Regions from separate parts of the Homo sapiens genome. Here all the other regions are linked to region 3. Evidence: fine-mapped expression QTL. A gene starts in region 3. Each other region holds a variant in brackets. All regions are shown on one strand. Distances are from middle to middle. Region 1 overlaps FAM222A (family with sequence similarity 222 member A). Region 2 overlaps ARPC3 (actin related protein 2/3 complex subunit 3). Region 3 holds the start of TCTN1 (tectonic family member 1).

The links. PIP is the estimated chance that this variant, and not a neighbour inherited with it, causes the effect.
Region 1: its variant is the best candidate, but not a certain one, in a credible set for the expression of TCTN1 in tibial artery (GTEx, PIP 0.79).
Region 2: its variant is the best candidate, but not a certain one, in a credible set for the expression of TCTN1 in whole blood (TOPMed, PIP 0.68).

What each region holds. Positions count from the first base shown.
Region 1 is chr12:109,763,987-109,766,744 of GRCh38, forward strand. The region is part of intron 2 of FAM222A (family with sequence similarity 222 member A); the gene reads left to right. The region is part of intron 1 of FAM222A-AS1 (FAM222A antisense RNA 1); the gene reads right to left. Among named protein-coding and RNA genes, the nearest start is that of FAM222A-AS1, 8.1 kb to the right of the region's middle. The variant C/G (reference allele first, on the strand shown) is at 1,305.
Region 2 is chr12:110,440,175-110,442,932 of GRCh38, forward strand. It overlaps ARPC3 (actin related protein 2/3 complex subunit 3), which reads right to left. Exons shown (of 7, transcript NM_001278556.2): 3 at 138-214. Among named protein-coding and RNA genes, the nearest start is that of ARPC3, 8.8 kb to the right of the region's middle. The variant A/G (reference allele first, on the strand shown) is at 1,247.
Region 3 is chr12:110,612,584-110,615,341 of GRCh38, forward strand. It overlaps TCTN1 (tectonic family member 1), which reads left to right and starts at 1,546. Exons shown (of 15, transcript NM_001082538.3): 1 at 1,546-1,819. The coding sequence starts at 1,600. RefSeq lists an enhancer at 1,823-1,872.

The DNA of each region.
Region 1 (2,758 bases), 850 kb before region 3:
TGAGACACCAAGGTGGGAGGGTCACTTGAGCCCACGAGTTCGAGACCAGCCTGGGCAACATAGTGAGACCCCATCTTTACAAAAAATACAAAAATTAGCCAGGTGTAGTGGCACACCCTTGTAGTTCCAGCTACTTGGGAGACTGAGGCAGGAGGATCACTTGAGCCTGGGAGGTTGAGGCTGCAGTGAGCTACGACTGTGCCACTGCATTCTACCCTGAGTAAGACCCTGTCTTCAAAAAAAAAAAAAAAGCCATGGCCCTGGAGCCTAGCACATACTAGACGCTCACCAAAATGAGCTTCTGTATTATGGCACTTTCTGTGGAATGGCAGAGGGACCAGGTCACCCTCAATGAGCCCTGTTGACCACATGGGGGCAAAATGCCCCTTCTTTCAGTGAATGGGGACTAGGAACAGGCACTCCTTTTTTTTCTTCTTCTTCTTAAGGTTTTAAACACCTAATTTATTCCGTCCATTAGATAGATTTTGTAGATTTAATCATTTTCACAGTTGGTGGCTCATTGGATACTCAAGATAAACTCCAAATGAAAGTATAATGGTGAGGACAAATGAGTTTTCACACCACAATGGCAGAAACTTGCTTGGGAAGAGAGTTTAAGAGGAACAAAAATACATACAGATATAATTTTTTTTTCCCCGGCAGCTGCTTTTGCTGACTCCAGTAGGTTACCACAGTTAATTTCACCAGTTTTGTTCATCTGTAAAATTGCATAAAAGTGACATTTTTGTGCTCATTATAGCAACTGCTGATTTATGGCTGGTAAATGAAGAGCTGGTCCCTTTTTTGCGGGACTCTCCGAGTGGCGCTAAGTGCCCATGAAATTGCTTGTATAATGTAGTTTAAATCCAATCTCGGAGAAAGATTCCCCCGTTGGCCAAAGTGACATTTCCATTCTCCACACCGAGTTTATTTTAGGCCACTTAGGAGGAGGCTGCCCCGGGCAGAGTCGGGATGGGGGTCCATGGCTGGGTCCACTTGCCCAGCCCCAGTGAGGCCAGATGAACGGAGAGCCACCTACTTCTTCACTCCCTGCTGCCCTGGCCAGGTCAGACCACACCCTTCACCCAGGGCAGAGGCAAATAAGCCCACTGAAGCTCATTTGCCTAGGCTCATAGGCCTGCCCATGCCTTACCCTGCTTAAAACCTCCCATGGCTGCCCAGTGCCCCACGTCGGGGCCTCTCCCCCTTTGGCCCTGCTGACAGTTGGGACTGGACCCTTTTCTGTGGCAGAGCTGTCCTGTGCATTGTAGGATGTTTAGTGGCATCCCAGGCCATGACCCACC[C/G]GATGCCAGTAGCACCTCTACCCCTAGCTGTGACAGCCAATCATGTCTCTACACACAGCCAGAGTGCCCCGTGCAGTGAGAGCCGCTTTCCTGCAGCGAAGAGGCCCTCCCGGCCGGCCACCTCTCTTGGGCTTCTCTCTGCAAGCCTGCCCCGGTGCCTCTCTCCTCCCGAGTCATTTGCAGTTCCCACCCTGACTACTTCTCTGCCTCAGGGCCTTTGCCTGGGCTGTTTACTCTGCCTGAAATCTGTTTCTCCCTCCCTTTTCACCTCTTCTACCAGTGGCCCAGGACTTAACCAGGATACAGTTCCTTTTGGGAAGCTGTCTCTGGACCCCCATGTCCCGCCACCGCCTGTTCCTCTCCATCCCATTTCACTTGGATTGGTTGTGAGCCCACGAGGTGTCAGGGACGATGCTTTAGAAGGTTGGGACATGGCCAGCAGCCTTCTGATCAGTGGGGAGGTAGCAGGGTCTGCACTCTATCCCCAGCTGCGATGCCAGTCCCACCTGTGCCTGTCTGAAGGGTGGCATGAGTCCCCTGCCCCTTTTCTGGGAGGGCCCTTTCTCTGGGCAGATGGGGAAGGTATTAATACTCACGCTCACAGAACACCAGCTTTTGTTAACGCCATCTACCGCACATGACCCGTCAAACCCTCCCAGCCATCTTGGGAAGTAGTATTAGCAGTAGCATCACCCCATTTTACAGATGAGGAAGCAGAGGCCGAGTGGTGAAGCTCCTCTCCCAGGCTCCCCTGAAAGTAATGAGCTCCAAGCACCTATCATGTACCTCACCCCCTACTGAGCCCCCGGCGCCTCCATTCCTTGAGGCCACCTTGGAGACCTGGCATGATCATGACCCTCATTCTACAGGTGGGAAAACAGGCTCAGCTGGGCAAACTACATGCCCAGGGCCATTCCATCTGCCTCATGGAACTCCACCACCACCACTCTCCATACCCCCTCAGCCCCGGAAAGCTGTGGGCTGCCCTTGGGAATGTCTCAGGACCAGGGAGGGGCTATGGATGGGGGCAGGAGTCTGCCCGCCATGGCCCTCCTTCCCCATGGCAGGGCCAGTTGTGTCCACTTATAGTGGGGACAGTCAGCCTGTAGCACAGAGCGTACCCTTCAGCCCCATGCAGGCGGCTCACTAAAAAGGCAGCAGCAGCCATGCTGGCCTTACAGGTGAACAGTAGACTCAAGGAGGGGCCAGGAAGCAAGAGGCAGCAGCTCGCCCTGGCGCTAAGCCCCATCTGCCGTGTTCACGTAGTAGCACACTTAACCAGCCAATGAGGTGGGCAGGGGGTCATCATCCCGTTTCACAGGTGAGGAAGGAAGGCATACGGAGGATAAAAGGGTTAGAAGGAAGGAATGTCCCCCAGAGTGGTGACAGAATGAAAGATGACACCAAGCACTGGCAGGTTGTGGGGCCACTGGAACTCCTGTGCTCTGCGGGTG
Region 2 (2,758 bases), 170 kb before region 3:
AACATTAAGCACTGCTCTCGAATTTAAAAATTACATGCTGATTTCATTTTATTTTCTCCTCACAGCAATCTGGATAGCAAGGTTGGTATTATCCCTATGAGAAAACTAAGTTAAATATTAAAAGCTCCGTAATTTACCTTAATTTCATAGTTTTTGAAGAAGACATTGGCCTTGAAGTAATAGATGGCTTCATCCACAATATCTGTATCTTTTGCTAAGCAGGACACAAGGGAAGGAGCACAGAGAACATTAGCCAAATACAAAACATAACAACTATCAAAGCCATAAAGGGAAAACACATACAACTGTCAACAGTTGTGGAGTTGAATAAAATAAAATGATCCTATTGAAATACAAAGTTTTTAGAAAATATTTATTTGTTTTTTTTTTGAGACAGAGTCTCGCTCTGTCACCCAGGCTGGAGTGCAGTGGCGTGATCTTGGCTCACTGCAAGCTCTGCCTCCCGGGTTCACGCCATTCTCCTGCCTCAGCCTCCTGAGTAGCTGGGGCTACAGGCACCTGCCACCACACCCCGCTAATTTTTTGTATTTTTAGTAGAGATGGGGTTTCACCATGTTAGCCAGGATGGTCTTGATCTCCTGACCGCGTGATCCGCCCATCTCGGCCTCCCAAAGTGCTGGGATTACAGGCATGAGCCACCGTGCCCAGCCTTTGTTTTTTTTTTTGAGACAGAGTTTCACTCTGTCGCCCAGGCTGGAGTGCAGTGGCGCGATCTTGGCTCACTGCAAGCTCCGCCTCCCGGGTTCACGGCATTCTCCTGCCTCAGCCTCCCAAGTAGCTGGGGCTATAGGCACCTGCCACCATGCTCAGCTATATTTTTTGTATTTTTAGTAAAGACGGGGTTTCACCGTGTTAGCCAGGATGGTCTTGATCTCCTGACCTCGTGATCCGCCCATCTCGGCCTCCCAACGTGCTGGGATCACAGGCATAAGCCACCGTGCCCGGCCAAATTTTTTTTTTTTGAGACGGAGTCTTGCTCCGTCGCCCAGACTGGAGTGAAATGGCATGATCTCGGCTCACTCTGCCTCCCGGGTTCAAGCGATTCTCCTGCCTCAGCCTCCCAAGTAGCTGGGATTATACGCATGTACCACCAGGCCTGGCTAATTTTTGTATTTTTAGTAGAAATGGGGTTTCACCTTGTTGGTCAGGCTGGTCTCGAACTCCTGACCTCGTGATCTGCCTGCCTCAGCCTCCCAAAGTGCTGGGATTACAGGAGTGAGCCACC[A/G]CCCCCGGATTTTCAGAAAATATTTATAGAAAAGTAGTACATGGTTTATTTTTACAGCTTTATTGTTTTCGTAAAACTTATACATGCTCATTAGAAAATGAAATTCAATCAAAACAGTTTTATTTTTTAGAGAGAGGTCTTGCTCTGTTACCCGGGCTGGAGTGCAGTGGTACAATTATAACTCACCACAGACTTGAATTCCTGAGCGCAAGTGATCCTCCTGCTTCAGCTTCCCAGGTAGCCGGGACTACAGGCATGCACCATGAGGCCTGGCTAATTTTTTTCTTTAAAAATTAAATAAAATTTTTAAAGAAAAGTTTTTAAAGATGGCTGGGCACAGTGACTCACGCCTGTAATCCCAACACTTTGGGAGGCCGAGACGGGTGGATCACCTGAGGTCAGGAGTTTGAGAGCAGCCTGGCCAACATGGTGAAACTGCGCCTCTACTAAAAATACAAAAAATTAGCCAAGCATGGTGGCAGGCACCTGTAATCCCAGCTATTCGGGAGGCTAAGGCAGGAGAATCGCTTGAACTCGCGGGTGGAGGATGCAGTGAGCCAAGATTGCACCATTGCACTCCAGCCTGGGCAACGAGATCAAAACTCTGTCTCCAAAAAAAAAAAAAAAGTTTTTTTTAGAGATGCAGTCTCACTATGTTGCCTAGGCTGGTCTCAAACTCCTGGCCTCAAGTGATCCTCCTGCCTCCTGAGTAGCTAGGATTACAGGCATAAGCCACAGCACCAGGCAAAAAAAAAATTTTTAATTGTCACCTTAATTCCCATTTCCCCAAAAATAACTACCATTAGCATTTGGTGAACATTATTCAAGACGTCTCTCAATGCATTTATAAAAAAACACTGAGACATAGACTAACTTTAACTGCTTCCTAAAAATAAAAAGTATTCAGTCGGGCGCAGTGGCTCACGCCTGTAGTCCCAGCACTTTGGGAGGCTGAGGCGGATGGATTGCCTGAGGTCAGGAGTTCGAGACCAGCCTGGCCAACATGGAGAAACCCTGTCTCTACTAAAAATACAAAAACTAGCCGGGCATGGTGGTACGTGCCTGTAATCCCAGCTACTCAGGGGGCTGAGGCAGGAGAATTGCTTGAACCCAGGAGGCAGAGGTTGCAGTGAGCTGAGATCATTCCACCAAACTCAAGCCTGGGTGACAGAGCGAGACTCCATCTCAAAAAAGTAATAATAAAAAATATATATAATTAAATAAAATAAAAAGTATTCAATATAATTTTATTTGAATTTACATATTATAGTTTCAGAAAAAAACTCAATTATTTAGAACATGTTGAGGTTCAGATACACATCTTTCTTTTTATGAAAACTATGACTTAAAATATACTTGTACAAGCTGTTGTAGGTAGCTCTAGACGGACAAAAGCCAGAAATACTGTCTTGACAAAGACAGATCTCATGACACAATTTGTTTGGCAATTTTTTGTTTTTCTTCTTCTTATTTTAAAAAGGTCAAAATCCCAGGGTCTTGATATCTGGCAGT
Region 3 (2,758 bases):
GTGGTTTCACCATGTTGCCCAGGCTGGTCTCAACTCCTGGACTCAAGCGATCCTCCCAAAGGGCTGGGAGTACAGGTGTGAGCCACTGTGCCTGGCCACGTCTAAGTACTTCGACATCTACTTCTGAACTGTATGGAGATTAAGTGTCAAAGGTGCAGCCAACATTCTTGGGCTTGGGTACCTCCTAAATAAGCCCATTCAGAATGGAGAGGGTTTCCTAAATCGTAGGGTCTCCAGGTCGTTTTGTAGCATTACAGTGGATTTGCTTTGTTTTCCCCTTTAAGATGTCTAAATTATTTTACTTAATTTTTGTAAAAGATTTTTGTCTTTAAATAGGTTCTTAGGCCTGGCGTGGTGGCTCATGCCTGTAATCCTAGCTCTTTGGGAGGCTGAGGCGGGAGGATCACTTGAGGCCAGGAGTTTGTGACTAGCCTGATCAACATAGTGAGACCCCCTCTCTACAAAAAATAATAAAAGGTATTAAGTGTTCATTTGTCCCCTTTATCACAATACAGCAGACAGAAGTTATCTGGCAACCTTGTGAGATGCAGCTAAAATAAAAAGGTGAAGCCAGTGTTGACAGAGTCTGGGATAGAGAAAATTCAGAGACAGTGATCTCACAGATCCCTGTGCTCCTTCCAAACACCCACGTTAGTGGCGTTGGGACGGCGCTTCCTAAATTTCCGTCCAACTCATCTGCTTGCGTCCGGACATTTGTTAAAAATATTTATTCCTGGCTGGGAGTGGTGGCTCACGCCTGTAATCCCAACTACTCAGGACTCAGGAGGCTGGAGCAGGTGGATCACTTGAACCAGGAGTTCGATACCAGTCCGGGCGACGGAGGGAGACCTCGTCTTTACAAAAAAAAAAAAAAAAAAAAAAAAATACAAAAATTAGCTGGGTATGGTGGCGCGCGCCTGAGTTCCCAGCTACTCAGGAGGCTGAAGTGGGAGGATTGCTTGAGTCCCAGAGGTCGAGGCTGCAGTGAGCCGAGATCGCGCTACTGCACTCCAGCCTGGGCGACAGAGTGAGACCCTGTCTCAAAAAAAATCCCCCAAAAACTGATTCCTGGGTCCTGCCCTAGACTAACTGACTCAGGATCTCCTGAGGTGGTACCTGGAAATCCGTCTTTTTTTTTTTTTTTTTTTTTTTTGGTTGAGACAGAGTGTCACACTGTCGCCCAGGCTGGAGTGCAGTGGCACGCTCACGGCTCTCTGTAGCCTTCACCTCCCGGGTTCAAGCGATTCTTCTGCCTCAGCCTCCCGAGTAGCTGGAACTACAGAAAATCTGCATTTTTTAAGCAAGCGCCGCGGACCGGTTGGAAACCACAGCCGGGATTTACACGCCCCTCGTTTACGCCAGCTTCACACCCGCTCACTAGTGCTCGCCCCTGTGCCTGCCATCGCTGCCTCACCCAGGCGCCGCCCTCCGGCCTCATCCGGGATCCGCCCCCTGCCTCATCCAGGCTTCGCCCCAGTCAGTCTCCGGCAGCTTCTCGCGGCTTCGCAAGCCCCTTCCCGTGATGCCCCGCGCCTGGCTGTCGCGGTTGCCGGGCAACGCGCTGTCCATGTCGCGGGCCTCGCTGGGACTCCCTGGGAGATGAGGCCGCGAGGTCTCCCGCCGCTCCTGGTGGTGCTCCTGGGCTGCTGGGCCTCCGTGAGCGCCCAGACCGATGCCACCCCGGCGGTGACGACAGAGGGCCTCAACTCCACCGAGGCAGCCCTGGCCACCTTCGGAACTTTCCCGTCGACCAGGCCCCCCGGGACTCCCAGGGCTCCAGGGCCCTCCTCCGGCCCCAGGCCTACCCCAGTCACGGACGGTGGGTACCATGTGCCAGCTCCTGGAGTCCACAGTGATCCAACCTCAAGGGGACAGCCCCGGTGAGGACGTAATAATGATAGCTAACTCTTATTGAGCACTTACTGTGTGCAGACACTGCTGAGTGTTCCATAAACGTCCATTCTCTAAACAATAACCCTGAGAAGTAGCTGTTACTATCACTGTCAGGTAAATGAGAAAACCGGGTCTCAGAGTTTAAGTGGAACGGTATCAAACCTTTGAAAATACTTGAAGTGGTCCCAGACAACAGTGATGCAAAGAGCAATAATGAATTCTTGCAGCCCAAGACGAAATTAAGTCGAGACAATGGTGGAAATTAGTGCCTTGGCTGCACTGAACTTTCACTTAAAGAGAGGCCAAAGGTCTATCTTACTAAATGTGACTATGTTAAGACCCTTCTCTGTTGACCTGAATTCTAAAAACCCAGGATTCCTCCTGTGTTGAATTGGAGGTGGAAAGCTATTGAGGGAGGGGTTATGCTCACTTCTTAGGAGTCATATGTAGGGATAATTAACATTTTTTTCAGAAAATGATTAATTCTAGAATTACACATTTAGTGGAAATATTTTATAATCTAATTTGACGTTTGGCTGGCGCCGTGGCTCACGCCTGTAATCCCAGCACTTTGGGAGGTCAACTCGGGTGGATTGCTTGAGGTAGGAGTTCAAGATCAGTCTGGTCAAAATGGCGAAACCCAGTCTCTACTAAAAATAGAAAAAATAGCCGGGCATGGTGTAATCCTAGCTACTCGGGAGGCTGAGGCAGGAGACTCGCTTGAACCCAGGAGGCAGAGGTTGCAGTAATTACCACTGCACTCCAGACTGGGCGACAGAGCAAGACTGTCTCAAAAAAAAAAATTGACATGGATGACTTCACTGAATGACTGTGACCCGCTAAGATTGAGTGCAAAACTTTGTGA